Linked DNA regions of Homo sapiens: all the other regions are linked to region 2. Evidence: fine-mapped expression QTL. A gene starts in region 2. Each other region holds a variant in brackets. All regions are shown on one strand. Distances are from middle to middle.

The links. PIP is the estimated chance that this variant, and not a neighbour inherited with it, causes the effect.
Region 1: its variant is fine-mapped to the expression of ZFAND5 in whole blood (INTERVAL, PIP 0.97).
Region 3: its variant is fine-mapped to the expression of ZFAND5 in whole blood (INTERVAL, PIP above 0.99).

Annotation. Positions count from the first base shown.
Region 1 is chr9:72,434,635-72,445,610 of GRCh38, forward strand. No RefSeq gene overlaps it. Among named protein-coding and RNA genes, the nearest start is that of ZFAND5, 75 kb to the left of the region's middle. RefSeq lists an enhancer at 9,559-9,818. The variant C/CT (reference allele first, on the strand shown) is at 5,353.
Region 2 is chr9:72,359,299-72,370,274 of GRCh38, forward strand. ZFAND5 (zinc finger AN1-type containing 5) reads right to left here and starts at 5,910. Exons shown (of 7, transcript NM_001102420.3): 1 at 5,398-5,910; 2 at 4,172-4,308; 3 at 1,330-1,489; 4 at 812-923; 5 at 120-223. The coding sequence starts at 1,480. RefSeq lists enhancers at 4,913-5,616, 5,617-6,321 and silencers at 4,929-5,758, 5,769-6,148.
Region 3 is chr9:72,320,066-72,331,041 of GRCh38, forward strand. It overlaps LINC01504 (long intergenic non-protein coding RNA 1504), which reads left to right. Exons shown (of 5, transcript NR_110952.1): 3 at 8,599-8,656. Among named protein-coding and RNA genes, the nearest start is that of LINC01504, 20 kb to the left of the region's middle. The variant G/A (reference allele first, on the strand shown) is at 5,383.

The sequences.
Region 1 (10,976 bases), 75 kb after region 2:
AAAACTCCGCCTCCTGGGTTCAAGCGATTCTTGTGCATCAGCCAACTGAGTAGCTGGGATCACAGGCGTGCACCACCACGCCTGGCTAATTTTTGTATTTTTAGTAGAGACAGGGTTTTATCATGTTGGCCAGGCTGGTCTTGAACTCCTGACCTCAAGTGATCTGCCTACCTCGGCCTCCCAAAATGCTGGGATTACAGGCATGAGCCACTGTGCCTGGCCTGATATTTTTCTAACTATATCTGTGAAGAAGAAGAAAGCAATCCAGAGTGGTATAAAAAATAATGTAAATATCACCTTCCCAATTTTGTTGCCCAGAGGCAGCAATAACTGAAATATATATATGTATATATCTATTCAGTTTATAGCTTTCTATTGCTATATAAGAAATTATCAAAAGTCTACCAACTCAATTGGGTCCCCTGCTTAGAGTCTCACAAGGCTGAAATCAAGGTGTTAGCCAGGCTCTCATTTGGAGGCTCTGGGAAAAAATCCACCTCCTGCCTCTTTGAGGTTGTTAATTATTTTGTGGTTATAGGATGAATGTTCTTGTTGGCTGGGGGTTGTTGTCAGCTCTTCGAGATCAGATCCTTTCCATGTGGTCCCTTCCATCGCTCCATTTTGAAGTCAGTAAGGTACACTGAGTCCTTTTTGCACTTTGAATTTCTGATGTTCCCTTTTGCTATGAGGTCTGCTACTAAGGGCTCATGGGTTTAGGTCAAGCTCACCTGATAATCTCCCTTGTGATGAACTCAAAGTCAACTGGTTAGCAATCTTGATTACATTGTAAAATCCATTTTCTAGTAATGTAACATAATTACAAGTATAACAGAGAACAGAGATCATGGGGACATCTTAGAATTCTGCCTTCCACATTTAAAATATGAAATTATGCAACACTTTTTCTTCTGAAAGCTTTTCGTCTCTTCCATGCTGTGCAGATGTTTCTCATTAAATATACATAAAACCTTTTTAATTGCCTTTTTAGTGCTGAATAATATTCTTTTGTAAAGGTCTATCATAATTTAACAATCTCTCTACTGATGTCTGTTTAAATTGCTTCCATTTTTAAATTATGAACGTTGCTGTCATATCAAGACTGCTGCTCTACCTTGACTAATTATCTCTTTAAGATAAATGCTAGTTGAGGAATTGCTGATCAAAGGGTGTACACATTTAAAATATTGGTATATATTTCCAATCTGCCCCCTGGAAAAGTTGCATCAACTTACATTCCTGTTAACAGTTTCTTAACACTTTGGGAGGCTGAGGCAAGTGGATCACCTGAGGTCAGGAGTTCGAGACCAGCCTGGCCAATATGGTGAAACCCCGTCTCTACTATCAATACAAAAATATTAGCCAGGTGTGTTGGTGGGCACCTGTAGTCCCAGCTACTCTGGAAGCTGAGGCAGGAGAATTACTTGAACCCGGGAGGTGGAGGTTGCAGTGAGCCGAGATCGCACCATTGCACTCCAGCCTGGGCAACAGGAGTGAAACTCCATCTCAAAAAAAAAACAAAACATCAAAAAAACAGTTTATTAAGATTGCTTGTTTCCCTACATACACTCTTGCCAACACTGGATTCTCACAATTCTTTTAATGTTCACTAACATAGAGATGAGGCATATCCTATTCTCTACTTACTATTTCTTGATTATTTGTGGGATTGAACATCTTTCCCTGCTTTTATTATCCACATATGTTGCTTCATTTGAGAACTGTCAGTCATTTTCTTTGTCAGGGTTCTTAGTTATAAGCAACAAAAACCAACTATAGTTAACCTAGGTAGAAACAGATTTTGCTGGAAGGATATGGGAGAGCTTAGAGAATCGATGAGAAGGTTGGAGAACCAGGCTTGGTAAAGGAGGGCTAGGCACTGGGAAATGCAATACATCTAATACCACAAGAGAGGACAGTTAATATGTTGTCATTGGTATCCTGTCTACAACCTACCACTGCTGTCTTGGAACACTCAACACTACTGTGAATAAGTTCTCACTTGCTCCCGTCTTTTCACCATTCCTCAAGACTCAGAGTCCCAGGTGGAGGCACTTGACTGACTGAGTCTATGTCAGATGTCTGAACGGGATAGTCAATGGATGAGTGGGGGATTCTCTGGCCCCTTTGGCTTCTATAGTAGAAAATGGGGGCTTACTTTCTACCAATACTTGCCTGCATTAGACGGCCATTCAGATGCTGGGTAGCCCACCCTCAAAAAGACAAATATCATTTCTTCATTTTTTCTATTGCAATTTTTTTTCTTATTTATTAGATATTTTTAATATTGGGGGTATTAATAGTCTGCAACATGTGTTGCATATATCTTTCCTTTTATTTTTTCTTTTTCAATCTTATTTATATACTGGATATTTTTGTGGCAAAGAAGCCTTTTAAGAAAAGTGACCCCAACCAGTTCTTTCCTACAGAATCCAGTAATCCACATGGCATTGTTTCTTAATCAAACAAACCCTGCTGTCCTAGCCACAGTAGATTAACCAAGGAGTCTGTTTATGGAGAAAGGTGGTTTGTTACACCAAGATTCTTTGCTTTTGCTTTTCTTTGTTTTCTACATAACAAGATTACAGCATACTGAATGATACAGAATTCACCCAAGTTCCTTCTTCTGGAAGTTAAAGACGTTAGTCAAACAGAAGAATATGGGTCATTCAAGCTTGGATTGCAGTCTTGAGTGTTGAGTTATTCCTCTGAAGCTCCTAGAAGCCTGCAGCCCAACACTGGAACACCTAGGACCTAGAGGAGGAGTGTGGCTAATGATGAATTTCTTATTTGAGCCCACATTCTTTTTTCTTTTTTTTTGAGATGGAATCTTGCTCTGTTGCCCGGGCTGGAATGCAATGGCACGATCTCGGCTTACTGCAACCTCCGCCTCCGGGATCAAGCAATTCTCCTGCCTCAGCCTCCCAAGTAGCTGGGATTACAGGCGTGAGCCACCACACCTGGCTAGTTTTTGTATTTTTAGTCGAGACAGGATTTTGCCATGTTGGCCAGAATGGTATCGAACTCTTGACCTCCAGAGATCAGCCTGCCCTGGCCTCCCAAAGTGCTGGGATTACAGGTGTAAGCCACGGTGACAGGCCTAAAACTAACATTTTATTTTTTAATTTAATTTTATTTTTTTGGAGATAGAGTCTTGCTCTGTCACCCAGGCTGGAGTGCAGTGGCATGACCTCGGCTCACTGCAACCTCCGCTTCCTGGGTTCAAGTGATTTTCATGCCTCAGCCTCTGAGTAGCTGGGACTACATGTGCCACCATGTCTGGCTAAGTTTTTGTATTTTCAGTAGAGATGGGGTTTTACTATGTTGGCCAGGCTGGACTCAAACTCTTGAGGTCAGGCAATCCACCCACCTTGACCTCCCAAAGTGCTGGGATTAGAGGTGAGAGCCACTGCACCCAGCAGATAACTTTTTTTTTTTTTGAGACGGAGTCTTACTCTGTTGCCCATGCTGGAGTGCAATGGCAAGATATCCTGAGCCGATATTCTTATGTAACTTTGTAATAAGCCTTCATAATATAAGTGATTTGTGAGTGTGGCTTTTCCCCCCTAGTATAGTTAAGAGCTTTTATCATTATAAACCTCTTACTGCTTAAACAATTTAAAAGAAATGGTGATGTAACATGGGTAATTCTTTCAAGTGTTTGCTCTTACAGATATTCCTTGATAGCCAGTTTTAGAATTTGTTAGACATTGCGTTTGTCAAAAAAAGTTCTTCCTCAATGCTTACCCTAGCATGCTCTGGCTTAACTAGTTCCCTCTTGAACCAAGGAATACTATGTTTTGCTAGAGTGACCCACAGTCCTTCTTCTTCACCAGACTCCCTTAGATGGGGTTAAAGTTCTTCCTTTTCCAGAAAGACTCAGTATGAGTATTTGCAAAGCTCTGAAGAGATGTAGTTGAACCTCATATATGCCTTAGATCAAGAAGTGAGTATGGTGCCAAAAGAAATTAATTTCCATATAAAGCCAGGAAGAAAGGTTGGGCTCATAAAGATAACCAGAACATGTTTCCAAAAGACTCAGTGGGCAAAGAAACCCATATTTACAAATCAATACTTTCCAAAGCTCATAGAGAAAAATAAATAATGTTTTCAGGGTAACATGGTTTTCTAAATGTACTACTTTCAATTAAGGCCTGTAAGTAGTCCCCAATGGTGCTTCACGAAATTCCTTTGTGTGTTCTCACCAGGTTTATTCTAAACTCCTAGTGCACAGTAACCTTTTTTTCTCTAGTTTTGTCAAGAGATACACATGGGTAGAAAATTCCCTCTTTGATATTTTTTCTACATTGGAAAGATCCACTTCTCAATAGTGGGTGAACAATTTGACCAGACCATTTTCCCACCAGTGAGTTGATCTCTAAGATACTAAGCTACAATTCCCTGTTGGGCACTCTATTGAAAAAATATGCAGAAAAGAGCCATCCATGTGTACCAAATAGACAAATTGAAAGTACATGTCCTCATCTAGGCTAAAATTTGATTGGCCTTTTTAGCAGATTGTTAGTGAAGATAGAGGCTCTTGGAGGTGGCAAGTGTGAATGTAAGTGTATGTACCTGTGCATGTGTGTAACATTTTTCATGCTATGCATTAATTTTGACTAATGATTTCTCGGAGTTGCTATAATCCCTTTCTCCCACTCACGGAAAATAACTGGACTCTGTTCATTTGACTATTTACTCTCAGAAAATGAGTCAGGGAGGGGTAGAGAAGTAACTCAGAAGGAATTTACAAAGTGGGCAGAAGAAATTTAATTTTAGCTTCGAAAATTTTAGCTTTGAAATTTAGCAGAACTCAACCCGCCCTGCACATCACAAGTTAAGAGGAGCAACTCTTGCCCCAGGTACAAGTGTGTTCCCTACTGGGGAAGCCATGTTAGGGATGTAATGAGCTAGAAGTTGCATATAGATGACAACAGGAAACAGCATATTTGATGGGTCTTTGGCTGGACTTTTCTGCAATCAGGTGAAGCCAAAATGATTCTCTAAGAACCAAGTATGGTATCACTCAAGCTTTGCTATCTTGTTCTCCTTTGCCTGTTTTCAGTACTTATTTTAATGTATGTTTCCTATAAAATTGTCCATCTATGTGGTTCTAGTTTTAGCATTTTATCTCCTCCTACTTGCTTATGGCTCAGCCCCAGCTCAGTCATTCCTTCTAATAGTGCCCTTATTATTCCTTCTTCCCCTGCTTCTTTTCCTACCTTGTTTCTCTCCTTGTTTCTTTCAAACAGGTCTAATCCTGAGCAAACTTGTGAAATTTCAACCTGTCAGCCCTTCAGACCTGAATTGTTTCCTCTCCTCAATGGTTCCACTTTTCTTTTCTTTCTTCTTCTT[C/CT]TTTTTTTTTTTTTTTGACAGAGTCTTGCTCTGTCATCCAGGCTGGAGTGCAATGGCATGATCTTGGTTCACTGCAACCTCTGCCTCCCAAGTTCAAGTGATTCTCCTGCCTCAGCCTCCCAAGTAGCTGGGACTACAGGCACCCGTCACCACGCTGGCTAGTTTTTGTATTTTTAGTAGAGATGGAGGTTCACCATGTAGGCCAGGATGGTCTCAACCTCTTGACATTGAGATCCGCCGGCCTCGGCCTCCCGAAGTGCTGGGATTACAGGCGTGAGCCACCACGCCCGTCCTGGTTCCACTTTTCTATCCCTTAGTGTTATTGCTTTCTTTCCACCAAAATAAAACCTTTTTTTTTTTTTGCAATCTATTTGCTCCAAATATTATTTTCCTGGGACAAATTTCAGTTTAACAGCTACCCAAGTGTTTAGATAAAGGTATGAAACACTGAAGTGAAATCCCTGGACTGGCTAAAGTTCCGGAGACTTCCATGTGTCTTCCTCTATCCTTCATATAATTTCTTGAAACAGTGGGGATGTAGCTGTGAGAAGCACTTTAGTTCCTCTTTCAGGGCCTTGAAGAGGTCAGACCCTTCTGAGAGGAAGAAAGCATCTGGGTGACAAATATTGGAACTGGGTTTCGGGAAGCAACAAAGCTGGACCAGAAGTCCAGGCAGACCCAAAGAGCAGGGGAGGGCTGGCTGCTGGAACAAGGTGCCTTGTTTAGCTCTGCAGAGACCTGGGACCAAAGATAGAGTTCTCAAACTGGGGAAATGGCTTATAACAGCCAATATCTGCTGGGATTCAGGTGCCGTTGCCTAAAAAGTCAAGATTTAGGATGTTAATCCAGAAAATTGACAGATGTTGGCCAGGTACTGTGAATATCTCAGCAGTTTTGGGGCTGTGATCAGAGAAAGATTGTTCTGGCCACACTCAGTGCCCCTAGATATTCTACAGATACCCTAGCTCATAGTTCGCCTTCAAAACTCACCTCGACATCCCCATTCCAGAAAGCTGTCCCTGACCACTCAATCAGGAGTGCAGTGCCTATCCTAATGCGTCCATGGAAACTTGTCTGTGAGAGCTTCCATCAAACCGACTTGTGGTGGCCTTTTTATCTGACTTTCTTCCTAGATCATTCCAGCACAAGGGCACAGACTGTGCACTTACACTGTGTCCACTGTGCTGATCACATGCCTGGCCCAGCGTGGATACTTAGCAAATGTTTGCTGAATGAGTGAATACAAGAATGATGTCCTTTAGGATGGCAGACAAAGGAAAACTTGAGCCACTGCAACACTAGACCTCAGAAGAAAGTTCTGCTACCAAAACGGAAAAATGTGTTTTTGAACTCAAATTGTGTTTGATGGCCTTCTTACTATTAATGGAGATCAACAGGTTGTAGAGAGCTGCATTATCAGTAGATGGGAAGCAAAGGAGGAGCGAGAAGCTGACTCATTCCCTTGAGCTTGCAAAGTATACAATACACCCCAGACAATGGGGAGAAACATCCATCCGCCCATGGAAATCAGTGAAACAAAAGGGGCCTGGGTGGACACCCTTGCTTCCCTCCCGTGCCTACTCTGGCTCTCAATCTATTTGTTTTCACCAAGGCTCTATATTTTGGGACTTTTGTGTTGGGCTCCTCCCCATCTCTCTGGGATAATAAAACCAGAAAAGAAATACTGGGACAGGTTCTGGCATGTGCAATTCTGTGTGAGCCATGGGAGTGGATGGGGCATTTGGAAATTTATGGAAGTTGAATGCAAAGTATGAAGAGTTGGACTGGAAAAGGAGTAGGTTGGGACAGGTGACTTCTGCTTTTCTTTTAAGCCTTTCTATATTTGAATTTCTAAAATTACCTGCATAAATTACTTCCATAAAATAACAAAAATACTTATTTTTCAAGACAACTAAGAGTCAGATGGAGATAGCAGTCTTGGGGCATGCAGGGCAGTGGGAGGGAGTGAGTGAAGAGAGGCTGTTTTCATGTCTGGTTTGGCTCCTTTATGAGGCTACTGCTGCTCTGGCAAGATGAACTGGGCCCTGTGTGAAAGGAACACTTGCTCAGGATTCCTGGATTTAGTTCTTCACAGGCCAACCTCTCTCCACACTTCAGTCATTGCCCCAGTTTCTTAACTCTATTAGCTGCCAGTCCTGTGGCCCATTTACCTTCTTCATGATTTGTGCACTTAGTTTCTGATCTCAACTTCCTTTCTAGTGACATTTCATTTCTTGTCCTAGATCCTAAAGTATTCATGGTCAGTTTCTAAAGTAATAGTCTTCCTGACTTGACTTGTCCCCAGGTTACCTCTTCCAGATGCTTCCCTGAGAGGATGCTCTCTCCTGTTTTGTCTCAGTTCTTGCAGAAGTACCTATACAGCCAAAAGGACCTAGAAAAGGCCTGAAAAGGGTTGATAACAAGCAGTAAAACCAGGGCGGAACGCTTGCAGACATACCAACATTCCTTTCAAGACCTGACTCATCCTCTTCCTGGTTGGGTCATCTTGTATAAGTTACAGAGACTTTCTGAGGCTTGATTTCTTTATCTGCAAATGGAAGATACTAATAGTATTTATCCCTTAATAAAAGTTCACTATCTCTTTGGCTAGAGTCACAGAAAGAGAAAAAAGTTCAAAATCACCACTGTAGCAGAAGTGTAAAGTTATTTACGCTGTTTTCAAATACGCAACAACAACAAAGTATGGCTCCTTTTTTATATACTAGGTCTGTTGTCAGCAAAGATCATCCTCACTCAACCACCCCCAACCCAAAGGGTGACAAGTGCAGTTTTAGTCTCACCAGAATTTTATTCAATTTTATAAAGAAAATCATGACTTTAGGTAAATTCTTTATCTCTTTTAGATAAAGTGCTCAGTCTCTCAGGTTTCTGCTCACTCTGTTTCTCTTCAAGATGACATCTGAATGTGAGGCTTAAGCGACTTCAGCAGGACAGAGGACATTGGGAGTTCTTGGCATCCTTTTGACATTGTTGGTCTCTGCTGTGTCATGGCTGGTCCGCGCTGCTCCCTGGACTCATGACCACTGGGAGGGACTGGTGCAATTTTGGGGTGTTCTGCTGGCATATGAACTGAAGCCTGTAACTGGTGTAATGCATGGACCATTCTTATCCTTGCTGACATGACCTTACCTTGTTAGTGCTGCAGAGGTCCAGTGTGACTTTCCTAGCTCTTTTTTTTTGAGGCAGAGTCTCACTTCGTCGCACAGGCTGGAGTGCAGTGGTGCCATTTACTTTGACCTCCACTTTCTGGGTTCAAGCAATTCTCGTGTGTCAGCCTCCTAAGTAGCTGGGATTACAGGCATGTGCCACCATGCCTGGCTAATTTTTTTTTTTTTAATTTTTAATAGAGATGGGGTTTCACTATGTTGGCCAGGCTGGCCTCGAACTCCTGACCTCAAGTGGTCCACCCCAGTTGGCCTCTCAAAGTGCTGAGATTACAGGCATGAGTCACTGTGCTAACCTCTCCTAGCTCTTCAAACAGGAAGTCTGCCCTGCAGTGTAGACCGCAGTATGATTAGCAGTTGGTTCTGAGTCACTTGAGCCCTGATTTGTGGTATTTGCAGACTTTTGTGGTGCAAACATTTCTGCCTTGGCATTTCAAGGTACCAGTGTGGTGTCACCAAATGTGAAGTTGGAAAAAGATCTGCCTTACAGATACAATAGATACATATAAGCTCAAGAACATAGATAATATGTAAAATGTAGTCTAATAACTATGGAGTGACAATTTTGAATATTTCTTGTCTTTATTTTTAATAGAATTAATTTAAATGTAAGTTGAAATATCTTTGTTTTTAAGTATTGCTGTGTTTAACAACTGGCTTGCAAAGTTTCTTATAATTTAATAGGCAGGTCTCTGACCCGGTGAACCATCTCTGGCTCACCACTAACAGGTCATCTCATCTTTTTTGTCAAGACATCTTCTATCAAGCTCCTAATCAGGCCCTCAATCAAGTTCCATGTTCTCTTTGGCGGCGTATTGGAAGCGTGAAGTTTAGGCCCACACTTTGCTATCCACAAGCTGACAGAGAGGCAACAAGAGACACAGTATGCTCTCAGCTACTAAAAAGGAAGTGGGACAGAAGCTCCTCTGCCCATGCCATTAATCTTGACTCATATAACTCACTTCCCCCTGGTGGAGTCTGTCAAATAGTCAGAATGTCAAATTCCCCTAGACTCTTGAAGAAAACTCACTCAATGGCCAATTCACAAAAGCCCATTTCACCAAATGAGAAATTCATGAAATTTAGTTTCTTTTTGTTTTAGTTGACCAGTTTTCCTAATAGCATTTTAAAGAAGAATGTCAAATTTGGTCTCCTGCAGCAGTCAACTGTGTGGCCTTTTCTTTCTCCAGAGTTTCAGCCACTTTCTTCTCCACTTTGCAGGTTCCACAGCCTAACCTGTTTCTTAGAACTACTTAGTAGTCATAGGAGAGAATGCAATTGCTCTAGGTCCTCCATTGGATGCTCTTCATTCTTCATTTGGTTTTGTTTTGTTAAAGAAGACAAATCAAAATAGAGAATGGCTGTCAAAAATAACAAGCCCAGGGGAGTTCTGGAGATTAACATCAGCACCAAACATTGCTCACAGCACTGGTCTCTGTTTATAGAGCAATCTCTAGTCTGTTTACTCATCTAGGTGTTTTAAAATGTTGGGCTCAAGTATCTGGGCTTGCAGGTATTGAGAAACTACTGAAGGCACAAATAGAGGAATGACAAGTTTGGATCTGCTTTAGACACTGAACTATGGTAGTAATACGTGAAAAGGACCAAAAAAGGGAATTTGTAAGCAGAGAATCCAGTTAAGAATTCATTAGAACCCAGGTGAGAGATAACAGTCTGCACTCCAGTAATGGAAGTGATGGAATGATAAGAGCTTTTTCCTGGCTACCCTAACTTAGAGGACTCCCTGTTTACTCTCTAGCACTGTGCCCTATTTGTGGAAATTTATAAATTTATATTTAGATGCCTACTTATCATCTGCTCTCTCACTAGACTGTAAGCTCCCTGAAGCCAGGGTTTGGATGTTTCATTTCCCAAAGTATTCTCATCACCCAGCACAGTGTCTGGCACATAGCACACGCTCCACAGACACCTGGGAAATAAAGTGGAATTAAGAAGAAAGAAAAGATATTCATCAGTGGGAGCAAGTTAGTTATGTTTTATAGTAAGGGAAAGATGCTCATGGAGAAGGAGGAGTGAAAAGGCAGAGGAGAGACAATAAAAGACGGCACAGACTCCAGGATAAGCAGGAGTAAACAGGATAAGGACAAAAGCAGCAGAATTAGCTTTGCCTAGAAGGGCTCCTCTTCTTCTGTCATGGGAGGAACGGAAGAATGGATGTGTATGGAGGTTGATTGGATTTTAGGTTATAAAATTGATGGTTTATGTTTCCTGGAGGTGTGGTAGGCACAGTTATCAACTGAGAGAAAGAGAGAAAAGGAAGAGAAAGAGAAAGAGGAAGAGGAAAGAAAGGGAGGAGGAGGAGGAAAAGAGGAAGAGGAATTAAAAGTTAAGAGGGTGGTGAGAATTTAACAAAAATTACTTTAAGGAAGGGAATAAGTTGGTGACCAAAATACCTAAAAAGATTTCTCCAAAAGGGAC
Region 2 (10,976 bases):
CTATATTTTATGGCTCTCCCTCCTCTTTGGTCCTTCAATGGGAAGGAAAGAATCCCCCCACCAGCCATTTCTTGCACTATCAAATTCAGAACTGAACAAGTATTAAATGAAAAACATACCTGGCTCTGACACCTCTGTTTTCGGGGTAGTTATTTTGTCCTCTCTTGAAATGCTCATTTCTGTCATTTGCTGAGTTACAGGCAAGGCAGCCACAGGCACATTTCTATTTGAGTTCAAGCAAACAATTTTTAAAGGTGTTAAGGGTACTTCTTGAGACAATGAATAAGTTGTCAGTTCAACTTTAAATTATAGAATATTTCCAAAATGAGCAAATGGAGCTAGATAATCTAAAGTTTAAAAAAAAATTGGATGCCCAGCACAAATGGTTGAGAAAAAAGTTTGATAAATGGCTCATGAACTCGAGGCTGCATTTTGTATAGGTTACCATATTTTACAACCAGCTAGGGATTTTTAGCTGTGCCTGTAACTTGTTTAAGGGCAAAAGGGCAGCTCTGCCAAAACACCTTGTCTGGCCCAATAATATTCTACAGTCTCACTCGACAATCCCTAAACCTCAATTACAAAGAAATAAAAAAGCACAGCATTTCCAACACAGTATCCTTGAGGGGGTTAGGGAGTCAGGTGTAAGTAACACACATCTTTACTCAATGACTTAAGAGTCATGTATTAAAAGACACTGAAATCCTCGATTGCAAAGCCAAGGGTATCTATTAACTTATTATTGGACCAGTACAGACATCTTGATTTCTTCTTTGTAATATCATAAAAACTCTGAAACGTTCAATCTTACCTTGATTTTTCAGATGTGCTGCCAGCAGCACCTTCACAGTTGTTTAAGCTAGTGTCTGCTCTCTGTACAGATGCAGAATCTGAGGTAGGACTGTTGGAACCACTAGCTGTTCCTATTTAAAAAAAGGATTTGTAAGGAACCAATGAACACTACAAAAACTCACTTAGTATCAAGACGTAGTAATAAATACTTGCATTTAATTAGGTTAGTGATATAAGCATTCACTGTGCTGTAATCCTATACTTGAGTATCCAAACAAAAAATATTAAAAAGTCAATCCAATGAACACAAGTGTGAAACAAAATAACCCCAAAAAAGAAAACTGAAAAGCTATAAGATGCTTGTAGATAGTCATTCATTCCTGATCAGTCATGTCAAGCACTTGGGCTGTTGCTTGAATTTCAAGCTCTTATCAGGTGTTCTCTCCATGTGCTTTCAGCATTCTCAGCCCCAATTCTTGGTTCTGTATTTCTGTCCACCAGTTCTTTCAAATGTGTTTTTCCTTGGAAATAACTTACCCATTGGGCTCATTCTGCCACTATTTTGCTGCCTCTGAAGATGTTCTTTGTAGCAAACTGAACACATTCCATTTGTCCTAGGATTTCCATAAAAGCCACATCCTGTGCTACACAGCATGGGCCCCGGGGTCTGGTTAGTCTCCTGAGCCATATTTTTCTGCTATAGATGAAACGAAATTTCAGAAATTAGTGTTATCACCAAAATATAGTCTAATATAATCATCGGTATACCGTTGTAATTGCTACGCAAGTTTTAACAAAAGCCCAAATTCCGTTAATCATTAAAAAGGGTGGGCAGAGATAATTATCAATATTTTGTTGCCTTTATAAAAGCAAACTGTTTTAGGACCAAAAAAAAACCCAAAAAGAAATTTTATCAATTATTAGGGTATTTTTACCTATCACTATTCTTGGTTTCAATTTATGAAAAGGTCTGTTAGCTCTCAGGGTTATGTTTTAATCAATTTGGGAAACTGGTATCTTTAACTTTTCACTCTGCTGCACTACAGGCAGACCATTTCAAATGTTTTTACTTAATTGGCTAATCACAATTATCACTGAGTCTTGATATTTATAGGTAGTTCTTTAAACTGGATGAATAAAGTTTTCTTAAAACACCTGTACATATCTGGGCTTCATCAGTAATTTGACAAATCTGCTGAGGCAGAGCATCTGTACTTTTTAATGCTGAAACATCTTCATATAAGGCTGAAAAGAGAACTGGTAGCCCTTCCTGCTACCCTGGCACCAACAAGTAAATCTCTAAGAATTTAGGGTCAGCTGGTTTACGAAACTCCTTTTACGTTCTCCATTTGAAGTTTCAGAGTATGTCAAAGCCAGTGCCTAGGAACCTGCAATACACAAATTATGAACCAGATTTCTCAGCCAAAGGCACTATTAATTTTAACAAGTGCTTGTCTTCCTCATACCAGAAAATAATAAAACCGTTCCAAGCTCAAATTCAATGTATTAAAGTCAATATATACACATAACCTTTAGTAATGGTTAATATTCAATGCTGGGTTACCAGAAAAAGCTTTACATAGCAAGCATTTGTTTCCAAGGAAGATTTGCTTTTCTAAAAGTCTTGTTAAAACGCTGTGCTAAATTATTAATAAGTTTTCCTCTGGATGAGAAAATACATATTAAAGAAAAATTATTTTAAAATAAAGTTGTGGAGGGTTTTCATGTCATCTTAAACATGTATAAGCATATGTACAAAAAGCATATTTGAGAGCATTTGCTTAAAGGAAAATTCGTGTGCTGTAACTTGTGGTCAGTCATTTTTTCCAACTACATACTAGAATACACTTTTTAGTGAGTTATTAAAAAACGATGTTTTAACAAGTATTAACTACCAAAATTAGAAGATGGGAGAAGGGGACTAACCAATTTTGACCTGGCCAGACCCCTGGTAATTATTCCCCAAAACATTTTATCTTCCCTTTTGTAAGTAAAAGTGCACCATACAAATATTAAGACAATCTAGCTTGTGTGGAGTGACCAAGATCCACAACTTACTTTTAACAACAGTATTAATTTAGTTGACACTGTCTCTTTAAATATTAACTGGAATTTAGCTGACTCATTTTGGAGCAGGGTAGTGTAAACATTTCAACATCACTTAGGAAGTTTATTAATAAACACTTTCAGCTGGGTTTTTAAATGAGCATAATAGGAGCAAAAAATGCTTTCAAATGATAAATATGTATGTATTTGCATGCCCACCACGCACAAAATATGTGTGAATGTTTGCCCTATGCATGAAAGTTGGGTCACTCCTTAAAACCAGTTTAAGTATGCTAGCTTACATTTTCTACACTGAGGCCCAGTCTCATGTGACATTGGCTTTAAAGTTTAAGGCCAAGCGATCAACCTACCTAAGTAATTTTAGTTAATCTGATTCTTAAAATATTTGTTTTAGATAAAATGGAGGATACTCCATCTAAAGATTTCACACACTCAGAGATAACAAAGTATTCCAACTTTGCTTCAGAGAACATGTCTACCTTCATTTCATTATAAATAACTTTCAACTGCGAGACACACAAGAGGTACCAGGACATGAGTCTTCTACATGGGTTCCCATCTTTTAGATTTTTTTCCCCTAGAAAGCCAGCTTTTAAATGCCATCACATGTGCACAGCTTGCTTTAATATTTCTCAGAAGCTCAGATCACATGGGAGGGCGCTTCAGCCTGTCACAAGGCTGCAATGTGACAAGCTGAGCTGGATGGAGGCTCTCACATAAAGCCTAGTCAACAGGGGCCTCTGAAATCAGCTTCTATTTATATCTCAAAGCCTGCCAACTCCTACACAACCCCAAGAACTAAGGATGCAGCGTTCATATATCTAACATAAGAAAACAAAAAAAGGGCTGCTAGTTTTTTCCTAATGTAGGAAAAACTACAGAACAATCTCAATCTAGAAGATGAAAGCATAGTCAAAGCTAAAATGGTCAAGGTTGTTGATAAAAAACTAAGCACAGTGGAGACAGTGTAAAAAAGAATCCTCATTTAGTGAGGATTTAGGGGATGAAGTGGGGGATGTGTGTTCCCATTAGGTATTGCATTCCCCTTGTATTTTAGAAAAAAATACCATTACTATTTATTGCCTTTAAAGTAATTAGCAACTTGAGCATGCACGTGTCAGCTCTATCAGGTATAGCTAGAATGCAGATTTTATAAAGTTTATGGCTTCCTCTAACTTACAGCTTAAAAAAACACCCGAGTGTAACTGAACAATTCTCCAATTCCAATTCTGAACAAAGAGCTTTTACACCTATGGAATACAGTTCTTTCAGGTGCACATGATGTGATGAGATGGCATGAATTCCCACTCACCTGGGAATGGAGACCTGAGTTCAAGTCTCTAGTCTGCCACTAAGTCAGTGACCTTGGGCAAGTCCTTACTTTCCAGATTTCAGTTCCCTCTTTGCCAAATGGAGTAGAATTGACTTTTAAAGGCTCCTTTTCAGGGCCTGGGAGATAGAAAACAGGAGACAACTACAAAGAATCCTTAATTTTTTAGGGGGGTGTGGGGAAACATTTTAACAAAAAACTTCAAAGATAAAATTGCAGTATTTTCACCAACTGAGTTCTGAAAGCCTACTCTTTAAAAAAAATCCTAAAAATAAGGAATAAAATACATTCGTTTATGTTTTTAGAAGTCTGTATCTAAATCCCAGGTTTAAGAACGGGGATGTGTGACCTATATGTTCCTTTATCTTGGTATCTCCTTAGATGCTATCCCTTAGGAGACACTCAATCAATAAAGATAATCCGACCCTTCCCCGAAAACACACCTCCACGGAGTGCGTGGAAAGCGAGCAAAAAATTTCACATTCATCAGCCTAAATGCACCAAACAAAGGAGGTGTTCCATTTCCTCCATGAAAACGGATCTCAGGATAAAAACGCAGCGACGTCGAGAAGCCCAAAAGACGACGCCGAGAACCCCCGGCCCCATGTTCCAATGGATTTTGGAACAAGTTCGGGTCCCACTGATACCCCATCCCCCTCTAAGCAAAGGCCTCACTCAATAAAGCCCAACAGGGCCCTCTCCGAAAACCACTGAGTCATGCAGAACAGCAGCTCAGCAGGCCCGGCCAGCCCTTCGCCTGCAGGCCCCACGCGGATCCCCGACCCCCGACCCCCGACCCCGAACGGCTCCTCTTAGGGGAGAGCTAGGGGGGGCTGCAACGGGCAGGGGGCGCGGCCGCCGCCTCGGCCTCTTTGTTTCTCTGGGTCGTGGTGCCCACGCCGGGCGCCGCCGCGGAGGCGAGCGGCCTAGAGGCCGGCCCCGCAGAGGCGGCACGCCGTGCATTGTTTCCCGACCGTGCTGTGGAGCGAGCCAGGGACGCCGGGAGCCAGGTCTCGGGCCACGACGACAGGATGACGCCTCCGTCTTTGTGCTTCCTGGGCTGGCGGGCGGGCTCCCCTCCCCCGGACGCCGCCATCCGCGGCCTGCTCCGGCTTCGCCATTGGCCCGCGGCGCCCCGGTCCCTTCACTCCCGCCCCCGGCCCGGCAACAAGGAGCCCGGCTCCCACCCGCAGCCCCGTATCACTCACCCTGCAGGGTCCCAAATGCGAAAGCCGGGTTCGCGCGCGAAGCCGGCACGATGAGGCCGGGCCGAGGCCTCCGGGAAGGCTGAGCCGGGCGCCCTGGTGCCGCCGCCGCGGGCCGGGAGCGGGTCGGAGCAGCAGGCGGAGGTGGCGCCGCCGCCGCCGCGGGGTCTTCCTTTGTTCCTGCAGCAGCGTCGAGCGTGGCCGGGACACGCCGGAGCTCGGGAAGTGGGAGGAGGGAAGCGAGGGGGGGCCGAGGAGGAGGTGGAGGGAGGACCGGCGGCCGCAGCGGCTAACGCTGCTCGAGGCGCTCGCCTGTCGTCGCCTCACGCCTCCACAGGCCGCAGGTTGGGCGGACGAGGAGGGCGAGCGGACCGCGCGCCGCGAGGCCTGGGGCCGTAAGGGCCCGCTGATGGCGCTCTTCGCCGCTCCTGCCACCGCCGGGGAAGCTGCGCGGCTCCCGGGAGCGAGCGAGCCCGCGTAGGAGATGCACACAGCTCCGCGTCCCGGCCGACTAACGCACTCGCCGCCCGGCGCCCGGGCTGTGAGGGAAAAGAGGGGGAGGGGGCGGGACCCGTGCGTCAGCGAAAACCCCGGCGGCGGCGGCGGCGGCGGGGAGCGCGGTGACGTCGCGGGCCCAAGGCCACGCCCCCGGTGCCCTGTCAGTAGGTCCAGGAGGCGGGGCCGAGACGGGTTGCTGTGCCTTCTCGCGGAGCCCAGCCACTGGCCTGGCAGTCGGCCCCTAGGGTGGAGCTGGGAAGAGCGAGTCCTGTGGAGGATGCGTTTCTATTTTTAACCCAATTGTCCGCCCTCAGCCTCCCTCCTTCGGATTTTCTCATTCAAACCCGTTTTTCGCCATCCTAGTTCTCACGCTTTGTCTCCAGCCCTGGGCAGACATTCCCTCCCCCAAGAATCGTAAGGATTCACCCCCAGAAAAGGAAAAGAATTGCCTTATGGCTTCGAGGTCTTTTCTGTTTATGAAACCTCCTCACTCCCCACACCCATTTTGAGCTCCGAAGTCCAGCCCGAGCGTGGCCCTGACGCAGCTGGCGGCGTGCGTTCGCTCGCCCAAGGTCACGGGTGGTTGTGCGGAGTGAGGAAACGCGCGGCCGCCCAGGGCTGCCAATGCCCCGGCGGCGCTGTTCTGAACAAACTGTTTTGGCCAGCCTGTGAAATCCCTGGAAATTGACGATTCCAGCAAAGCGTCGTGAACTGGGAAAGCACCAAATGTTCTACTCAAAAGCCGCGAAGGGACAAAACAAGCTAGACCCGAGGCCCAGATGAAGCGGGAGGAGGAGGCTTGCGAGAGGAAGTTCAAGGGGGGAGGTACTAGGCGGGCAGTTCAGGCACGAGGCACAGGTCCCCCATGGGTGAAAGGATGACTTTACCCGGAACACTGGGAACCTTTTCAGAGCACAAACAAAAAACATTTTCAACTGACCGCTCCAAGTGAATTTCAGTTCAACTCAAAATAACAAAATTACTAAGTCGGAAAGGACTTCTGAAATTTTCTAGTAAACAACGGTCTAACGAATACATAGAAATGATGTTTAGGGTTTATATTAGCCACATATAGAATGGAGAAGAGGTCCCTTCAGTGTTTCTCAAAGTTGGTAATCAGAAAAAAAATCACCTGGGGTGATTAAAGATTCCTACGCATCTCCCCTGGATATGGTTTTGGTTGTTCCGGGGTGGGAGCGGGGGTGGGGGGGGGCCCATATTGCGCTTCAGGTGGTCCTTATTTATAATCTGTATTTGGGGGAATGCTATACTGATAGCTTGAGCCACCACTGCCAAATCAAACAGTTCTCCGCCACAGTTAGCAAAGTACCTGGAGCATAACAACCTTTTGTTTTGTTTTTTAACAAATTCGGGTTTATTACTGTGATCAATTAATGTATTAGAGATTTAAGTAGTTTGGGTCACTGGTCCCACGACCACTGCAATTTATTTCCTTAAATTAGCAGATGAATTAGTAAAAAAAAAAAAAAAATAGCAGCTACCATTTACAGGCCATTTTCAGTGCCAACTATTTTCCATTTAGGGTCTCATTTTATCCTCACAGCAATTCACTGAGATAGGTACTATTATCATGTCCCTTTCTACAGATAAAGAAACAATGACTAAAAAGGCTTGCCCAGGGCACTGAAGGGCAGGGAGGCAATGGAGGTGATTATTATTGAGAACAAAAATAACTTGAATTTTAACTTGAATTTTTTTCTTTCTCTAGAATTGGAGTTATAGTGAGTGAAACAAGATAATTCCTGAAGAAGCATACTTTAAAAAAAGTCTAAGGGTAATGAGGCAAGCTCATTATTGAATAGTGTATTCCATAATATTATGTCACCTTCTGATAATTCATCTTCTCTATCACCCATTTATAATTTTCTCTGAGACTGTTTCAATCAAGAATGTTGCAGGTATTGGACCTAAACATACCAAGATTCCTTTTTAGCAGCTATTTTCTAGTGGTTCTCAAAATGTGGTCTCCAGACTACCTGGGAACTTATTAGAAATACAGATTCTCAGGCCCCAGCACCAAACCTGTGGAGTCACAAACTGGGGGTTAGCACAGCCGTCTGTGGCTTAATAAGTCCTCCAGGTGATTCTGATGCATACACAAGTTTGAAAACTATTGACTTAACCCTACCATGGCATCAGGTGACCCCTCTTTTTTTCAGATGGCTCACACCATGTGAAAGGGAAAAGTTTAAAAAAAAAAAGTCTCATATTACTGGTGTAACAGATTAAGGGATATACTTCTAAGAAGGTTTTTGTTTTATTTTTGTTTTCTTATATTTTAAATTTTCACTTGCACTCCAAAGACAAACTGAATTGCTAAACACAGAATATATAAGAGAATGCTTCTAATATAACATGCCAAAGGGCTTTGCTCTATAGTCATTAGGGAAGGTCAACTTTGGCCTGAAACCAACCTCTGTAAAAAAGATAATGAGTAGCCAGTCGTGGTGGCTCACACCTGTAATCCCAGCACTTTGGGAGGCCATGGGGGGTGGATCATGAGATCAAGAGACTGAAACCGTCCTGACCAACATGGTGAAACCCTGTCTCTACTAAAAAATATACAAAAATTAGCTGGGCATGTTGGTGCGTGCCTGTAGTCCCAGCTACTCGGGAGACTGAGGCAGGAGAATCACTTGAACCCAGGAGACAGAGGTTGCAGTGAGCAGAGATTATGCCACTGCACTCTAGCCTGGTGACAAAATGAGATTCCGTCTCAAAAACAAAACAAACAAACAAACAAAAAAACAGATAATGAGCAAAGTTGGTCGTGCTCAAAATGTGATATTGGTTAGGTGTGGTGGCTCACGCCTATAATCTCAGCACTTTGGGAGGTGGAGGCAGACGGATTACCTGAGGTCAGGAATTGGAGACCAGTCTGGTCAACATGGCCAAACCCTGTCTCTACTAAAAATACAAAAATTAGCTAGGCGAGTGGCAGGTGCCTGTAGTCCCAGCTACTCGGGAGACTGAGGCAGGAGAATCACTTGAGCTGGGGAGGTGGAGGTTGCAGTGAGCCGAGATTGTGCCACTGTGCTCCAGCCTGGGATAACAGAGCGAGACTCTGTCTCAAAAAAAAAAAAAAGTTTTGCACATTTGCTACTTTCCAGGCACTCACTTAACTTGGTGCTGGGATATACATTCATGTAAAAAAAAAAGATGTTACCCTGTTCTCATGGATCTTACTGTCATTTGGGGAGAAAGATATTATCATATAATATATAATTATGAACTGGTAAATATTTTGAAAGAAAAGCATAGAATGCTATGGGAGCATATAACCAATCATAACGGATCTTGAAAACTCACCCAGGTCTGAGTTCCAACCATCCCCATGGCCAAAGGAGCCAGGCTTATTTCCTTAAAGTAGGTAACCTGGTAGTCTGCTTAAGAACTCAGGTAAAGTCATTGCAGGTTCTCTTACACTTTTCTTTGTAAACTAGGCCTGGAAAGGGGATTGATGATGGGAGAAGAGCAAATGTAATTAAATTTCTTAGAGAAAACTGACATCCCTTAAAAATAGCAATATAAGTTATTAGTCCACTGTAAAATGTAAAAGACCTGAAGTTATTTTATCTTGACATATAAGTTCCTATTATGGAGACAAGAATTGCTGCTATGACATTATTATAATACTTGGTCATAAGTAACTATTCATTTTCTGTCTGTGCTTGAGTAGAACATGGTGAAGCACAAAGCCTTTTCTAGGGTCTTAAAAACTTCAGAGTGGCCGGGTGTGGTGGCTCATGCCTGTAATCCCAGCACTTTGGGAGGCTGAGGCGGGATGATCACCTGAGGTCAGGAGTTTGAGACCAGCCTGACCAACATGGTGAAACCCTGTCTCTACTAAAAATACAAAATGAGTTGGGTGTGGTGGCGGGTGCCTGTAATCCCAGCTACTCCAGAAGCTGAGGCAGGAGAATTGCTTGAACCCGGGAGGTGGAGGTGGCGGTCAGCGGAGATCACGCCATTGCTCTCCAGCCTGGGTAACAAGAGCGAAACTGCTTCTCAAAAACAAAAAACAAACAAACAAACAAACCCACACACAAAAAGCACAAAACTTTGATGTGTCACTGGACGTTCACATAGTGCCCTTCCTCCCTTTCGTTCCCAGCCCCTTCCCAGATTTCAAAGATCAAGGTAAAGGACTGTTTTATAGAAGTATTTTCAAAATAATTGGCTAAAAGGATTATAGTATTGTATTTAGAGCAAATCCACTAATTTAAAAATTAAGGCTGGGCGCGGTGGCTCACGCCTGTAATCCCAGCAGTTTGGGAGGCCGAGATGGGCGGATCAGGAGGTTAGGAGATCGAGACCATCCTGGCTAACGCGGTGAAACCCTGTCTGTACTAAAAATATAAAAAATTAGCCGGGCTTGTTGGCGGGTGCCTGTAGTCCCAGCTACTCCGGAGGCTGAGGCAGGAGAATCGCTTGAACCTGGGAGGTGGAGGTTGCAGTGAGCTGAGAATATGCCACTGCATTCCAGCCTAGGCAACAGGCAAGACTCTGTCTCAAAAAAAATTAAAAATAAATAAATAAGAAATTGATAAAGCAAGTTGCAATTTCATTATTATATAGACCTTTTGGTAAATTAAAATTCTTAATTATTTTCTCTGAAAATAACTTGATCAAAGAATCTTCAAATAAAAGACATAGATATCTTACCAGATTAGAGAAGACTTTCTGACACTATCTAGATACTATCAACGTAGCATTAAACAATTTTTGAGACTATTTGAAAAACTAAAAGCTTTTATTGTTTTTAATTTTCTTATTATTTTTTTTGAGATGGAGTTTCTCTCTCGTCGCCCAGGCTGGAACCTCCATCTCCCAGGTTCAAGCGATTCTCCTGCCTCCGCCTCCCTAGTAGCTGGGATTATAGGCTCCCGCCACCACCCCCAGCTAGTTTTTGTGTTTTTAGTAGAGAACAAAATCTGGCAGTCTTGTCTTGAACTCCTGACTTCAGGTGATCCGCCCACCTCTGCCTCCCAAAGTTCTGGGATTAAAGGCGTGAGCCATCGAGCTGGGCCTGCCTAATCGTTTATGTAAATCAAGAACTTAGG
Region 3 (10,976 bases), 39 kb before region 2:
GAGTGCAATGGCACAATCTCTGCTCACTGCAACCTCTGCCTCCCGGGTTCAAGCAATTCTCTTACCTCACCCTCCCAAGTAGCTGGGACTACAGGTGCCCACCACCACACCTGGCTAATTTTTTGTATTTTTAGTAGAGACCGGGTTTCACCACGTTGGCCAGGCTGGTCTCAAACTCCTGACCTCTGGTGATCTGCCTGCCTCAGCCTCCCAAATTGCTGGGATTTTGAGACTCTGTCTAAAAAAAAAAAAAGGATGGACTGGACATGGGAGGGAAGTCCCATAAGATGATCATAATGGAGCTGAAAAATTTCTATCGCCTAGTGACATTGTAGCCATTTTGACATCAAAGTGCAATGTACTACTCAAGTGTTTGTAGTGATGCTGTTGTAAACAAATCTACCACACTGCTAGTCATATAAAAATATAGCACAATTGGCCAGGTGCAGTGGCTCACGCCTGTAATCCCAGCACTTTGGGAGGCCGAGGCAGGTGGATCACAAGGTCAAGAGATCAAGACCATCCTGGCCAACATGGTGAAACCCCATCTCTATAAAAATACAAAAATTAGCTGGATGTGGTGGCAGGCGCCTGTAGTCCCAGCTACTTGGGAGGCTGAGGCAGGAGAATTGCTTGAACCTGGAAGGTGGAAGTTGTAGTGAGCCGAGATTGTGCCACTGCACTCCAGCCTGGCAACAGAGGGAGACTCTGTCTCTCTGTCTCTCTCTATATATATATACATATATAGCACAATTATGTACAGTACATAATACTTGATAATGTAATAAACAACTTGCTGGTGTATGTATTTAATATACTATATATATATATACACACACATATTTTTTTTTTTTTTTGAGACGGAGTCTTGTTTTGTCACCAGGCTGGAGTGCAGTGGTGCTATCTCGGCTCATTGCAACCTCCGCCTCCTGGGTTCAAGCGATTCTCCTGCCTCAGCCTCCCAAATAGTTGGGATTACAGGCGCATGCCACCACGCCCAGCTAATTTTTGTATTTTTAGTAGAGACGGGGTTTCACCATGTTGGCTAGGATGGTCTCCATCTCTTGACCTCATGATCCACCTGCCTCAGGCTCCCAAAGTGCTGGGATTACAGGCGTGAGCCACCGTGCCTGGTCCTATACCATACTTTTAATCATTATTTTATAGTGGACTCCTTGTACTTATTTTAAAAAGTTAACTGTAAACAGCCTCAGGCAGGTCCTTCAGAATGTACCCAGAAGAAGGCATTGTTATCATAGGACGTGACAGCTCCATGTATGTTATTGCCATGAAGACCTTCCAAGTGGGACAAGATGTGGAGGTGGAAAGCAGTGATATTGATGATCCTGACACTGTGCAGGCCTAGGCTAAGGTGTGTGTTTGTGTCTTAGTTTTTAACAAAAAATTTAAAAAGTAAAAAACTAGTAAAAATTCTAAAAATGAAAAAAAGCTTATAGAATAAAAATATAAGGAAATAAAATATTTTTGAGCAGCTGTACAATGTGTTTTAAGCTAAATTTATTATAAAAGTCAAAAATTTTTAAAAATTAAATAGTTTAAAAAAGTAAAAATGTTACAGTAAGCTAAAGTTAGTTTACCTTTGAAGAAGGAATAGGTTTGTAGCATAGGAGCAATAGGCCACACCATATAAGCTAGGTGTGTAGTAAGCTATACCATCTAGGTTTGTGTGAGTACATTCCCTGAGGCTAACACAAGGACAAAACCACCTAACAACACATTTGTCAGAAGGTATCCCCAGTGCTAAGTGACACATGACTATAGTTTGCCAACCCTGATCTAAAGCTGTAATTCAAGAAAACTTAAAATATTTACTAGTTTGAACATAAGTATGTAGTGAGCCCAGACTGATTAATTATGAGTTATACTCATTTCTTTGTTGATTTGTTTAATAAATGCTGTATTTCTGAGTGATAATCATATAGTCTGGTCCCTTTCCAATAACTTTATACCTATATTCTATTATGAAGATGTAAACTCTGAACTTTAGTTTAATAATAGCATATTTCTGGACCAGGAATTTAGGTTTTTAAAAAGTTTTTGCTACAAATACTTAGGTTAAATCTGTCACAGAAATGATGTATCACATGCTATAACTGCAAAATAAGGGACAGAGAGATGAAGGTTAAGATGATGCATCCCAGAGAGTTGGTCTTTCATTCTGCTATTCATTCAAACAATATTCACATGTCAACATGTGCAAGGCACTAGAATGCATTCCTTGGAGAATTCCAGGATGACATAGACATAAACATGATCTTCAAAGTCTCCAGTGCTTTCTTTGGATAAAATGAGAATAGAATTGCCCTGGCCTTGGGAATTAGTTTAGGGAGAGCACATGACCAAGCTAGAACAAGTGGACTCTTGCCATGAAATTTTAGCCTCAAGTGGAATACCTTCGCTGTAAGAGCATGCAACTATGTCATTGAGGAGACAGTTCATTCGTTCCTGCCCTGTGCTACATAGAGTTGCCCTTTTTCCAAGGATGTTTGGTTTGCAAAGGGGATTAAAAAGAAATCATGCTGGAAAAGTAAGTTGGAGTGAGCTGTGGTGAGCCTTCAAAACCAGAGGGAGGAGCATGAACTATATTCTATAGATAAAAAAGCTTCTTCTAATACCATAATTGATTTTAGTGGGTTAGCAATAAACCAGGTGAATACAACATCCATGTCCATGATGTGCTAAAGACCAGCCTGAGTTATGCTAGGTAGAAGGCTGATTACAGATTGGAAGTATTTGGCATTCCGTGCAGATTTTCCTGTTCTGCTGCTCTACAGCAGGGTTTCTCAACCTCAGCACTGTAAGAATTAAAGAAATAGGAAAGAAACATGAAGGGTGGCTCGACAGTCAACAAGGACAGGTTTATTTTAGAAAACAAACCTGAGAGGGGCTTCTGGCCGAGTTAGGTCAGAGCCCACTCTCTTACACACTAAGAGGTTTTAAGGATTCAGGGTGGAAGAGTTTATCAGAGGCTTGGACTGCTTCTGTGTCTCTTTGTTGTGCTTATCTGGGAGGGAGAGTTGTGTGTCTGTTCCCATACATCTTTCTGCAGCTGCAGGCATACCCCCCAATTCTGCTTTTAGCTTCCCTAACTTAGTGCACCTGAAGGGAAAGGAATGTGCTTATTGGGGCCCACTGTTTTACCGGGGCCCATTGTATGAGGGCGAAGTTTGGCAGTTACCCAAGAGCCTTTCCCCCCACCTCTGTTTATCTGTGTTTTACTGTCTGCTCTTTCTGGCTGCTTGTAGTTAGAAGAGAAGTGATTTCCTTGAAATGCATGACACTAGAAAGAGAGCTGGAACTTAAAGTGGTGGTGTTTGTCCAACATGACGGTGCTCCTGCTCTGTCAAGCACTGGTGACATTTGGGCTGGATAATTATTTGTTGTGGGAGACTGCTCTGTGTCTTGCAGGAGGTTGAGTCTCCACCCACTAGATACTACCAAGTAGTACCACCTCTCCTGCTACAATAGGAAAAAATGTCTCTAGACACTGGCATGTGTGCCCTGGAGAGTGGTATAGTTTCCTATTGCTGTGGTAAGAAATTATGACAAAGTTAATGACTTAAACACAAATTTATTCTCTCACAGTTCCAGAGGTTGGAAGTCTGAAATGAGTCTTATGAGACTAAAATCAAAATATTAGCAGGGCTGGTTCCTTGTGGAGGCTCTGAAGGGAGAATCCATTCCCTTGTCTTCTTTCAACTTCTAGTAGCCACCTATATTCCTTGGCTTGTGTCCTCATTTACCTCTTCAAAGTGCATCTTTCCAAACTTGACTTCTGTCATCCTATCGCCCTCTCCTCCACTCTGACTCCTTCTACCTTCCTCTTAGAAGCACTGTCGTGATTCTCTTGGGCACACCTGCATAACCCAGGCTCATCTCCTTATCTCAAATCCTTAACTTAATCACATCTGCACGGTGTTTTTGCCATGTGAGGTAATGTTCACAGGTTCTGTGAGTTAGGATGTAGACATGTTTGGGGGCCCATTATTCAGTCTACCACTAGGGCAAAATTGCCCCATGTTGAGAACTACTGCCACAGAAGAATGGGGCCAGATAACCTAGATTTGAGTCCCAGCTGCACTTACCTACTAGCTGTGTGACATCAGTTTTCTGTTTTTTCTTTTTTTTTTGGTGGGTGGGGGAGACAGAGTCTTCCCCTGTCTCCCAGGCTGCAGGGCAGTGGCGAGATCTTGGCTTACTGCAACCTCCGCCTCCCAGGTTAAAGCAAGGCTCCTGTCTCAGACTCCCGAGTAGCTGGGACCACAGGCGTGCGCCACCACACCTGGCTCATTTTTGTATTTTTAGTAGAGATGGGGTTTCACCATGTTGGCCAGGCTGGTCTCAAACTCCTGACCTCAGGTGATCCACCCGTCTCGGCCTCCCAAAGTGCTGGGATTACTGACGTGAGCCACCACACCCGGCCAACATCAGTTTCTCATCTGTAAAATGGAGCTAGTAGTAGTACTTACCCCATGGAATTTTTTTTTTTGAGAAATAAATGAGATAAAGCACACAAAGTCAAGCAGTTATCAAAGTCCTTGTGATATGGTTCTTAATACTTGTTACCTATTGAAAATAAAAGTAAAGTTACATTTAGGATTTGTAAATATGTGGATTAACTTCATGGACAAATGTAGAAAATGACAGTGGTCTCTAAGGAACAAGCCCCTGGCTAACTTGGAGTAAATAGCACAATCATAATTGTTTAATTATGAACATGCTCTAATTCTCATGCCACTCTTACAAGGTATGTGAGGTCACACAAGAGTTTCTCCAATAAGTTTTTATATATTTATTGAAATGTACTAAAAGTTTCTATTTTATGCTTTTTACATGTAGTAACTCATTTAATGCTCACAGCTACTCTGAGACATAGATAATATTGTTATTCCCATTTTACAGATGAAGGAACGAGGGCACAGAGAGATTCGAGTTGTCACCCAAGCTCACATAGCACCAGTGACAGAGGTGAGATTTGAATCAGGCAGCCTCTGTCTAGAGTTCCCTTCCTAACCTCCATTCTATACTGCTTTCAAAGATCCAGCCCTTCCCTCAAATCACGTTTTCTTACTTAGACTAGGGTTTGATTCATGTTTACTCACTGGGAATAAAGGTCAGTTAAACAGAATGAGAGAACAGGAAAGTCTTTCAAAATGATGCTTCTGTCTACTTACATTGTCTGTTACTTTAACAACTTAGGGATTCTTGGAGCAAGTAAAGAACCAAATATAAAGACTGCTTTGTGGGAGGTAGCTTGGATCCTTCATCATTTTTTTTCCCCCCATAACTCCTGAGTTCCACTGGAGACACAGATTCTCTGGGGGTAAGATTAGCGGATTCGTATTTTAACAGACCTCTGGC[G/A]GTTCTTCTCTATGCTAAAGTTTGAGAACACTGCTTTCAGCATTTCTAATCTCATCTCAAATTCATCAGGGAGCTGTTTCCTCCTTCATGAAAAAATCTTTGACTTAATGATAGCTACCCAGGCCTACCTTATTAGCTAAAGGGGGCATAGAGACTTAACTCTCAGTGGTTGACAATTATTGTAAAGTAATTCTTGCCGTTATTTTTCTCCCCTAAGGGTAAACTTAGCAGCAAATGGCATACTAGTAACTTAACCAATTGAAAGGGTAACAGCAAAACTAACAACCAAGTTTGCTTTTGATAGGTAGAATTGGCTGCCTATAAGGTGTGACATGAAAGTTGAAGGAAGGCTCACTTTTGCAAATATCTTTCCCACTGTTCTGCCAGGGGGAAGCAATTTTTTGGTTTGGGTTCCCCTAAATTCCAAATATGTTACCTAGGAGGAGTAATAAGTTATACATTAAACTGTTATGATTCAATCACAGCTTTAAAAAGATCGCAAAATTAGCTCTCAGGTTACTTAGCAAATAACCAATTAAGGTCTTGAGAGGATAATATTTGGGATGGGAAAATTTAGGTGGGTAGAAAAAGGCTGAGCAAAGTCAAGAATGTAGGCTGTTACCAAAGGCCAAATGGCAATACTGGACCAGCATATCTTCTTCTGCTATTTCCTTTATGCCCCTGAGGGTTCTTCTGAAGCAGGAGTTGGCAAACTTTTTCTTTTCTTTTTCTTTTGAGACAGAGTCTCACTCTGTTACCCAGGCTGCAGTGCAGTGGCATGATCTCAGCTCACTGCAACCTCCACCTCTGGGACTCAAGCGATCCTCCCGCCTTAGCCACCCGAGTAGCTGGGACCACAGGTGCACACCACCACACCCAGCTAATTTTTTTGTATTCTTGGTAGAGACAAGGTTTCACTATGTTGCCTAGGCTGGTCTCAAACTTGTGAGCTCAAGCGATCCGCCTGCCTTGGCCTCGCAAAGTTCTGGGATTACAGGTGTGAGCCACCACACCTGGCCGCATACTTTTTCTATAAAGAACCAGATAGAGGCTGGGCATGGTGGCTCACGCCTGTAATCCCAACACTTTTGGAGGCTGAGTCGGGCAGATGACCTGAGGTCAGGAGTTCAAAACCAGCCTTGACCAATATGGTGAAACCCTGTCTCTACTAAAAATACAAAAATTGGCTGGGCATTGTAGCATCTGCCTGTAATCCCAGCTACTGGGGAAACTGAGGCAGGAGACTCGCTTGAACCTGGGAGGCAGAGGTTGCAGTGAGCTGAGACTGCACCATTACACTCCAGACTGGGCAACAAGAGGGAAACTCCATCAAAAAAAAAAAAAAAACCAGACAGAAAATATTTTAGGCTCTTCAGTCATGTGGTCTCTGTCGCAACTGCTCAACTCTGCCATTGTAGTGTGAAAGCAGCCATGGACAATATGTAAACAAAACAGTGTGGCTGTGCTTAGTTATGAATCCTAATATTTGAATTTAATATAATTTTCATGTTATAAATTTTTAATTATCTTGTTTTTTCTCAACCATTTAAAATATGAAAATTATTCTTAGTTCAGGGCACATATAAAAACAGATGGTAGGCTGGATGGGCCAGTTTATTGATCCCTGTTCCAAAGCAAAATCAATTTGCTGTTTTCAATACATACTCCATGCTATCCTACTTCTTTACATTTGCTTTCATTATTCCTTCCACTTACGTAGAAGGAGCCCTACACACCCCAACCTACATGCCCATATGTACCCATCACCTAGTTCAATTATTAGCTTATTTTCAAAGTAAACTCTCATCCTCTAAGTGCCTTCATCTATACTTCTCTGATGGCCTTGATCATGGCAGATTTGTATTACTTTGTGGTCTGTGATTTTTTTTTAAATTTTATTTGTTTACGTATTTATTTATTTTTGAGATGGAGTCTTGCTCTGTTGCCCAGGCTGGAGTACAGTGGCACGATCTCTGCTTACTGTAACCTCCGCCTCACGAGTTCAAGTGATTCTCCTGCCTCAGCCTCCCGAGTAGCTGGGACTACAGGCACACACCACCGCGCCCAGCTAATTTTTGTATTTTTAGTAGAGATGGAGTTTCACTGCGTTGTCCAGGCTGGTCTCAAACTCCTGAACTCATGATCCTCCCGCCTTGGCCTCCCAAAGTGCTAGGATTACAGGCATGAGCCACTGTGCCCAGCCAGGATGTTTTATTTTTATATCCTCCATGGCACCGAGCCTAACAGAGTTAGCAAAGTGTCCTAAGTCAAGGAAGAACCATCAGCATTTAGGAAACAGCATAAAGATTGTACCCGGCCAAAAGTGGAATGAAAGTAGTTAAAAGAGAAGTGAAAACGTTTCTGAACACCTATAGTGGTTTGAATGACAGCCTCCCAAAAGATAGGTCCTTGTTCTAAAACCTGAACCCGGACAGGCGTAGTGGCTCACGCCTGTAATCCCAGCACTTTCAGAGGCCAAGGCAGGTGGATCACGAAGTCGGGAGTTCAAGACCAGCCTGGCCAACGTAGTGAAACCCCATCTCTGCTAAAAATACAAAAATTAGCTGGGCATGGTGGCGTATGCCTGTAGTCCCAGCTACTCGGGAGGCTGAGGCAGGAGAATCACTTGAACCTGGGAGGCGGAGATTGTGGTGAGCCAAGATCATGCCACTGCACTCCAGCCTGGGCAACAGAGTAAGACTCCACTCAGATAATAGACAGATAAATAAATAAATAAATAAATAAAACCTGGACCCTGTGAATGTGACCTTATTTGGAGAAAGGGTCTTTGCAGATGTAAGTAAGTGAAGGATCTTAAGATGAGATCATCCTGGACTACACCCAATGATAAGTGTCCTTAAAGAGACAGAAGAGAAGACACACAGAGAACGCCATGTGAAAATGGAGGCAGAGATTGGAGGGATATAGGCACCTGGAATGCAGAGGGAGTGAATTCCTGCCAACACATAAATTTCAGACTTCTGGGCCCCAGATTGTGAAGAATAAATTTCTATTGTTTTAAGCCACTCAGTTTGTGGACATTTGTTACAGAAGCCCTAGGAAGCTAATACAACCCTCACCACCTGCTTTCCCAAGTTGTGTTAACAAATATCTAATATTTATTTAGCACTTGTTATATTCAGCTTTAAATAGATAATTACATTAAACTTTCACAGCAATCTTATAAAATAGGCATTATTATTATTCCTTGTACAGATGAAGAAACTGACATCTGGAGAAGTTGAAGTAATTTGCACAAAGATTCACTTGGCTAGTAAGTCATGAAACCAGAATTGAACCCAAGCAATCTGATTCCAATTCTCTTCTCTTTTTTAAAAAAAATTTATATATATACATTTGTTATTATACTTTAAGTTCCAGGGTACACGTGCACAACGTGCAGGTTTGTTACATATGTATACATGTGCCATGTTGGTGTGCTGCACCCATCAACTCGTCATTTACCTTAGGTATTCCTCCTAATGCCATCCCTCCCCCTCCCCCCACCCCATGACAGGCCCCGGTGTGTGATGTTCCCCACCCTGTGTCCAAGTGTTCTCATTGTTCAATTCCCACCTATGAATGAGAACACGTGGTGTTTGGTTTTCTGTCCTTGAGATAGTTTGCTCAGAATGATGGTTTCCAGCTTCATCCATGTCCCTACAAAGGACATGAACTCATCCTTTTTTATGGCTACATACTATTCCATGGTGTATATGTGCCACATTTGCTTAATCCAGTCTACCATTGATGGCCAGTCCTCTTCTCTTAATCACTGTTACCTGTTAGGTTCTTAATCATTCTCCTTACATTTCACATACCTTAACAGAGAGGAAGAAATGTTGGTTAATGACTTCCTTCTTTGGGGAATGATATTTCCTAAACTGGATTTCTGCTCTCCCAGCTACTCATTCTTGGTGAACAAGCATAGAATAGTCTACTGCTCAGGTCAGGACAACAGAATCTCTCTCTGGGTCTCCTGCCCTTCATCCTTCTCTGATTCCTAAGGTGGGGGAGCTTGGAAGCTTTATGTTAGCCTTTAAAGAGTATGGCCTTCATGAAAGTCTGTTCCCCTGAGCAGCTCTATTTGAATGCATTTAATAACTGTAGCTTCTAGTTTCCAATAAGGAAAATAAATAAGAGGAAACACAACTGCAGGCAGCACTGGGATGATGTCAACAATGGAAATATCAGCATGGTTCCTGGAAAAGTCATGGAGAGCAAAGTGCTCAAGAGCCATTGAAATCCTTTCATAGGAATAGGTTCTGAGGACCAAATGTTGTTAGAGTCTTCAGGGAAGCAAGATAGCACAGTGGTTAAGAGCATGAGTGCACTTGGGTCTAGGTTTGAATATCCTGGCATTATCACTTACTAGCTCTGTGACTGAGCAAATAACCTTGAGTCTCAGTTTTCTCATCTTCAAAGTGGGGAATAAAAATATTACCTACTTCATAGGTAATATTTATGTAGAACACTTGCACACGTAAGCCCTCAATATTATCAAAGTGTTAGCTGTTAAATTGTGTATGAAAGTCTTGAATGAAGGTTTTCACTCACCGCCTTTTCTCTCACCACCACCCTTACTCCTTTCCCTTTTACTAAATATAATTTTGCCACTTTGGCTGGGCGCGGTGGCTCAACGCCTGTAATCCCAGCACTTTGGGAGGCCGAGGCGGGCAGATCACTTGAGGTCAGGAGTTTTGAGACCTCCTGAAACCTCATCTCTACTAAAAATACAAAAAATTAGCCGGGTGTGGTGGCGCATGCTCATAATCCCAGCTACCAGGGGGCTGAGGCAGGAGAATCACTTGAACTCTAGAGGTGGAGGTTGCGGTGAGCTGAGATCGCACCATTGCACTCCAGCCTGGGTGACAAGAGTGAAACTCCATCTCAGGAAAAAAAAAGAAAAAAAAATTTGTCACTTCATTAACTTTTGAGTACCTCTATGGAGACCAAAAGTAAGTCAGCAAGAATAAAAAGAAGAATGCACAAAGCTTACACAAACTTTCCTTGAAAAATAATTACAAAAATAAAAAATGTTTTCAGAAAAAAGAAATTTTACATTACCAAAATCAAGATTATTTTACTCTATTCTAACCCAACAGATACAGGTTATTTCATAACCCCATTATGTGGAAATTTAGGTAGGGCCATTTTCATCACTTAATTCCTCTCATCCCCCACTCCTGCTGCCTCCTAGAAGCATTCATTATCTCAAGATAATTTCACTGATTATTGAGGCATTATTATTCTGTCGCTTCTATTGTGACCTCTTCATTTCTGAAATCACTCCTTTGCTTCAAAGATGACACACTGGTAAGGATACTAATTTTCCCCTACTCTTGTATTAACCAGGTCCCATAGCCCCAGCATCTGAAATTTGAAAAACCAGAATGTATAATACCATTAGTAGAAAATAGCATATGTAGCAGTCATTGCAACAGCCATTTTGCTGATAACACTTCATGCTTTCTTATCACTGTTTTCTATCACCATTACTTTCAAAGCATTTTCTGTCTGCTTGATACAGATTACATGCATATGGATTTTTGTATAGTAATGCTTATGGAATATAGTATTATATACTCTTCATA